Homo sapiens: one gene and its partner. The protein of the gene in region 2 purifies or fractionates together with the protein of the main gene of each other region. This does not show direct contact. Each region holds a gene or a part of one and is shown on either strand. Other genes may lie near its edges.

What was found.
Region 1: the proteins of PARP6 (region 2) and RPRD1A fractionate together in Homo sapiens (co-fractionation; one large-scale study listed by BioGRID). This does not show direct contact.

What each region holds. Positions count from the first base shown.
Region 1 is NC_000018.10:35,991,775-35,994,719, forward strand, and holds part of RPRD1A (regulation of nuclear pre-mRNA domain-containing protein 1A), read right to left. Parts: intron 1,527-2,945; coding exon 1,377-1,526; 3' UTR 1-1,376. UniProt on the Homo sapiens protein: Interacts with phosphorylated C-terminal heptapeptide repeat domain (CTD) of the largest RNA polymerase II subunit POLR2A, and participates in dephosphorylation of the CTD by RPAP2.
Region 2 is NC_000015.10:72,251,956-72,255,782, forward strand, and holds part of PARP6 (protein mono-ADP-ribosyltransferase PARP6), read right to left. Parts: intron 2,566-3,827; coding exon 2,500-2,565; intron 2,116-2,499; exon of another isoform or gene 1,995-2,115; intron 1,550-1,994; coding exon 1,482-1,549; intron 1-1,481. UniProt on the Homo sapiens protein: Mono-ADP-ribosyltransferase that mediates mono-ADP-ribosylation of target proteins.

The DNA of each region.
Region 1 (2,945 bases), on a different chromosome or scaffold from region 2:
CAATTCATTGTAACTATAATTTCTAATACTGAGAAAGAAACAATGAAGCCATTCAGACTAGAGAGACATAATTGGCTTGTGGGATTTTCAAGATGTTTTATTGACTATCTAATTTGAATCTACTTACAAAGAGAAGAAAAATGTCTAGTATGTAAAGCAATGAATGAAAATAAATGTTTATCCTAAGTCATTATTGAGTACAAATCCACAGCTTAACAATGTGTTTTTAACAGCAGGAGAGCATGCAACTGCTCTAACACACAGGGTCAGAAATAAAAGGTAAAAGTACATTTGTTTTGTAACTGTAAATATACAAATATAAAATTTACCATATCTACCCTGTAGTGTGGCACTGCTTAACTGCCAAATATACAGTCATTCAAAAACCTTAAGGAAACATTGAAAATGTCTCAGGCTACTTTACTGAACATTAACGAATATTGTGTTCTTGAGCTATTAGAGCTAAAAGTATTATTTTTAAAGTTATATGAGCAAGGGAATAATAAAAGTATCATTTCACGTGTCTTTTAATCCCATAGACGGCTTTTTGTTAAAGGGATTAATTATGTTAAAAGGAAACTGATTTGACAAATAGAAACCAGTTCCAGAACCAAAGTTGTCCTCTTGGTAGAATGTCAAAATGTATATTATTTCCAAAGTATTTTCATTATTAATCTACTCAAATAATTACAAACAGTTTAATCAAGGGAGTCACTATTTAACACTTTTAAAATCTACACTGGCAGTTGGAATGGAACTTTTACAATGCTATTAAGGAACAGTTCTCTAGACTTTCATCTGCCCCTCAAAGTGACATCCCTGTTTTATGTTAAATTACCGACCTCTAAGGAATCAAAGGCATGTAGAGACACAGAATTGATATTTTGTTTGGGGAGAAGGGTAAAGATTATGTTGGAACATTTAGTCCCTTCTACAATCAAGTCCTAACTATACCATAATAAAGTCTCAATCAACTCCTAATTAGTTCTTCCCCTTCAGGAATTACATAGTATACAGTGATTAAATGCTGAAGAAAATAAAGAAAAACAATTGAAAATACCTGAAGAAATACAAACAAGAGATTTCTCACAAGGCCTTGGATCAAAAAAAAAATTTACAAAAAGATCTTTTGAAAATAATCACTATTTGTGAGCTTATTAATACACACAAATCATCACTTTGTTCAAATTAAGTCATGTTAATTTACCAATAAAATAGTAAACAAACCAACATTTTAAACAATTTTATAAATTACTCGTTGTTCCTTTTGTTAGTGTTTCTTTCTCAACAATATACAAAAATAACACTACAGGACTATCCACCTAACCTGTCTCCATCTCTTGCAAAGTCCTGGGACCTGGAAAGAGGCTGGTCCATCAATCTTCACTGTAGATGTCTCCCGCAAAGGGCAGGTGCATGTGGCTGCCAGTGACATTGGGCAATCGAGATAAGTCTGGCAGGCTCTGGATCCGGGACCTGAGTTCTTTGCGCACCAGGGAAACTCTGGCTAGCTTGCGCTTGTACTCCTGTAACATCAAACCACTTTCATTAGCATTCAGGGATTGAAAAAACTTCCTAGCTAATAATGACCTACATAAACCCAGGTACTATATATACTCAGTTAATGCCATATTTAAAAAGGTTATTCCAGTGTGAGTTTTCACATCAAAAGATGAGCTTTGGAAATATATAACTAGTAAACTATTATTATTAAGAAAAACCACAATCTTTAGCTGTTGCTTCACACCAGTAGAAAGAAGACTAACATTAATGTGCTTAACCTCGACATATAAGATGTTCAGGTATTCTTGAGTTTGGGCAAGAAAAATTACATATTTATTTTCATAAACCTTAACTAAAATTTGGCAAGAACATCTATGAAAACTCAGTAGGAATGGCCAGAGTCTGTGGTGTCTGAAGCAGGACTGCTCCCTTCCTGTGCCCTCCCATCTAAGCAAGGAGGGTCCACTCCAGACTGCTGCAGCCAAGAATACAGGATCACTCTCCCTGCAACTCCCAGTGGGAGGGTTTTATTCCCAGAAAGAGCGCCTCTCATCCTACCCCAACTACCTGGTGCTGAAGCTAAGTCCTGAGATAGAGCAGGGAAGAGCCTGGGGACTCCCTCCTGTCCAGCCCCCACTCCTGGAAAAGAAGTTCCTTCTTATGCGTGGAGGACTGAGAATACTTGGGCCCTGATAAGCCTCACCCCCAACTCATGAGGAAGGTGGCTCCACAGCAGAAGAGGCAAGCCAAGACAACCTCAGGCTGCTGCACCCCTCCCTTTCTCCAAAAGCTCAGCACCCACAACAGGGTATCACTCAGAGAAAAGCTTCCCACTATACCCATCTCAGTTCCAGGGTCCTGACTCAAAGATTTGGTCTAAGGAAGTAGCAGGCAGTAAAATAGATATGTCCATGGCAATTCACTATTACCACAGTGCATGGCACAAGGCAGGGAGATTCACGCTCTTTCCAAATGTGGTCACAGGTAAGTCCTGAGAGGACCATCCTAGAGAGTGCATAGATGAGGAAACATCTAAGGAAGAAACCCAGCTAGGAGTTTACTGCAACTCTCCAGGAAAGAAAGGACTAGGGCCTGAACCGAACCAAACCAACAGTAGTAAGGATAGAGCAATGTCCTTTAAAAACTACATTATATGTAAATAATACCTTAATGTCAAAGACTAAATGTTTAGAAAGAAAAATCAGCAGGAATTGGTTGTGGTTCTGCTGTGAGGAATAATGAGGGTTCAGGCTTCATAAGCAGGTGGATATCGGAGCTGTTATCTGAGATAGCAGAGAGGGGCACAAACTCCTTTGGAGAAGGATACAGAGTTCATTTTTAAGCATGATAACTGTGAGTTATCCATGGGATTTCTAGTAGGCACTTGGAAATGTGATTACAGTATTCTGAGCTACAAATAAAGATTTAGGCTTTATAACTGA
Region 2 (3,827 bases):
GCCACCTCAGATGGTCTATGCCTGGTTATTCCTCAGGCTAAGAGGGAGAAAGCTGTTGCACTGAGGAAGTACTGAAGGCTGACTAGGAAGAGGGAGGCAAACTAAAAAGGGAAAGCTATGTCAGGAAAACAATAGAAATTGAGATCAGGAATGGATGGCAGCAGGGACAGTCAAAATCTTGGCTAGGAGAAGAGCACAGCAATAGTGCCTCAAGGCTCTGGACATTCTATATCATCAAGGAGGCCCAGAGACAGGGCAAGGGGATAGCAGGAGGAGACAGACGTCTCTGGATGCAAAGAAAACTTAGTTGAAATTAACAGTGTTAATTTCTACATGCAAAGGACACAAAAACCTATTGGTGGTGACTATAGTTAGTAACAATGTGTAATATTCTTCAAAATCACTGTGGTAGATTTTAAGTGTTCTCGCCACAAAAAATACATACGCGAGATAATGCATATGCTTATTAGCTCTACTGAACCATTCTGCAATGTACACATATTTCAAAACATCATGTTGTACACAATACATGTAATTTTTTTTTTTTGAGACGGAGTTTCGCTCTTGTTGCCCAGGCTGGAGTGTAATGGAGCAATCTCAGCTCACGGCAACCTCCGCCTCCCGGGTTCAAGCGATTCTCCTGCCTCAGCCTCCCGAGTAGCTGGGACTACAGGCATGGGCCACCATGCCCAGCTGATTTTGTATTTTTAGTAGAAATGGGGTTTCTCCATGTTGGTCAGGCTGGTCTCGAACTCCCAACCTCAGGTGATCCGCCCGCCTCGGCCTCCCAAAGTATTGGGATCACAGGTGTGAGCCACTGCACCCGGCCCTGTAATTTCTATCTGTCAATTTAAAAAATAAATTAACAAACCAAAAAAGAAAACAAACAACAAAACCTATTGCGAAACATGGAACACCTAAAGAGAACTTGAAAAATCATGTCAGCTGCACATCGTGGCTCACAGCTGTAATCCCAGCACTTTGGGAAGCCAATCAGGAGGATCACTTGAGCCCAAGAGTTCAAGACTGGCTTGGGCAACATAGGGAGACTCCATCTCTATTAAAAAAAAAAAATTAGCTGGGTGTGGTGGCACATGCCTGTGGTCCCAGCTACTGGGGAGGCTGAGGTGGATCACTTGAGCACTGAAGGGCAAGGCTACAGTGAACCATGATCGCACCACTGCACTCTAGCCGGGGCAACAGAGTGAGACCCTATCTCAAAAAAAAAAAAAAAGAAACAATTAAAATAAGATTAAAAATAATTTTTTTGAAAGAAAAATCATGTCAGAATTTGTGGGCGTTTTGTAGGATGTGTTATTTTCAAGGCAAGGTATGCCAACAAACTCCAAGAAAAAGCACCCATTACTGCCTATAACCTTGGGAAGGATGTTGAAACCACCACTAAAAGAAGGTACAGGTTCCATGTCCAATAACTCCCTCCCTCCCCATAACCCAAGAAGGATGAGCCATTCTATCCATACCACTGCAGGAGAGGATGGGCCAGGGGATCCAACTTGTCCATCTGTTTCTTGATTTCCAAATATGAGCCCTGTAAGACAATGGCCATAACGTTATCTCCTTGGAGAGGTGGGAGCCTACCTGCTTTCTGCTTTTCACAGAGTGACTATTAGGGTCCAGGGCAAGGTAGGCACCAAAGGCCACACAGAGGAAAAAGGAGATAGGGTTCCCACCCTCAAGGAGCCCTAGTCAGGCTGGGAAGACTCATAAATAAATATGAAAATGACTGAAGATGCTTACAAAACAACATGCAGGTGGGTCTCCCTCATTTTATGCAATTCCTACAGCCCTAAAAAGTTGATTATAAATCAAAAAATAAATAAAATCAATGTCCCAAGAAGATTAGGCTAAGGAATCCTGTGGTAAATCTTTAAATAATGCAAAGCGTCCTCCTGACAAGTAAATCATTCCTCCTAGGTGTATCTTATGTGTAAATCTCAACTGTGATATACAGGATTTGCTGAGAAGAGGCCCACCTGTAAATGAGTACAAATGAATGTCTATTCATGCAGAGATTGCAGACGAGGGGTGGGGAAGTCTGGTGAGGGACAGCCTTGAGTCAAAGGATGGTCACCGCTCCATGTGGCTGCCCCACCCCTAGAAGGATAGAAGATGTAGGCCCCTGTGTCTAGTTCCTTACCTTCAAGCCCCCCTCCTCCTCACCCTCCCAACCCTGGGCAGAGGTCTTTCCTTCACTTCTTAACTCCCTAAGAATTATGGCAAAACATTAAATATGAACAACTTGTAAAGGAATTAACAGCAAAGGTAAAGATTGAGACACAAAGACTAAAGAGAATAAAGAGGAGTAACAGAGCTAACAAAACAGAGAACAGGAATTGGGAAGGTTAAAGAGGAAAGACTAAAAAAAAAATACAGTGCGTAGCATCTCTAAATCTTCATCCCACTCCCACAAATTACCAACAGAATAGGACACTTGAACTGGGCAGGCAAAGGAGAGGGGACAGAGAGAAGGCAGAATACCTGGGTCATCTCCCGAATAGACATCACACTATCCAGAGCTTTCTGAAGCCGCTCATAATTCTTCTTCTGTGGAGAATCAATGGGAAGAGAAGAACCAAATAAAGAAAAGTAGAGGAAAGTAAGATGTGATGAAAAGGGGCTAGATGTACCAAAAAAGTCTAGGCCCTAGGAAACAATAGTATGTCATGGAAAGAGCATTAATGTCAGACAGTTCTAGGGGCACATGCTAGTTCTCTTTTACCAGCTGGGAGTAACAGGGTAAGTTATTTGGCCTCTTAGAACCTTTAGCATCCCTTTATGCAAGTGAAGATAACTCCTATCACCCCCATAGAGATGTTCTGAGGATTAAATATCATATATAAAGAACTCTGTATAGTAATGACAGTAATAGTGAGGTACTATGCTGGGTACTTGTGATGGTTAATTTTGTGTGTCAACTTGACTGGGCCATGAGGTACCCACTCATCTGGTCAACCATTATTTCTGGGTGTGTTTGTGAGGGTGTTTCTGGTTGAGATTAACATTTGAATCAGCAGACTGAGTAAAGCAAATTGTCCTCCCTAATGTGGAAGGGCCTTATCCAATCAATCGATGACCTAAATAGAACAAAAAGGCTGACTCCTCTGCCCCACCCCGCCATGAGTTTGTAGAGTTTGTAGGTATTCCTCCTGCCTGATTGCTTGAATTGGATTATCAGTCTTTTCCAGTCTTTGGATTTGAACTAAAAAAAAAATTGGCTCTTCTTGGATGTTAAGCCTTCAGGCTTTCAGACTAGAACTTACACCATTGGCTCTGATTTTTTGGTTTTGTTTTTTTGAGGCAGAGTCTCGCTCTGTCACCCAGCCTGGAGTGCAGTGGTGCGATCCTGGCTCACTGCAACCTCTGCCTCCTGGGTTCAAGCGATTCTCATGCCTCAGCCTCCCAAGTAGCTGAGATTACAGGTGCCCACCAACATGCCTGGCTAATTTTTTGTATTTTCAGTAGAGACAGGGTTTCACCATGTTGGCCAGGCTGGTCTTTAACTCCTCACTCCAGTCAAGTGATCCACCCGCCTTGGCCTCCCGAAGTGCTAGGATTACAGGCAGAAGCCACTGCGCCCAGCCCACTCTCTGATTTTTCAAGCCTTGGGACTGGGACTACCACTGTACCACTGGCTCTCCTGGGTCTGCAGCCTGCTAACTGTAGATATTGGGACTTCTCAGCCTCCATAATCATGTGAGGCAATTCCTTATAATAAACCTCTTTCTCCTTCTCTCTCCATATATATCTCCTATTGGCTCTGTTTCTCTGGAAAACCCTAAAACAGTACTTTACATATATTACTTCTC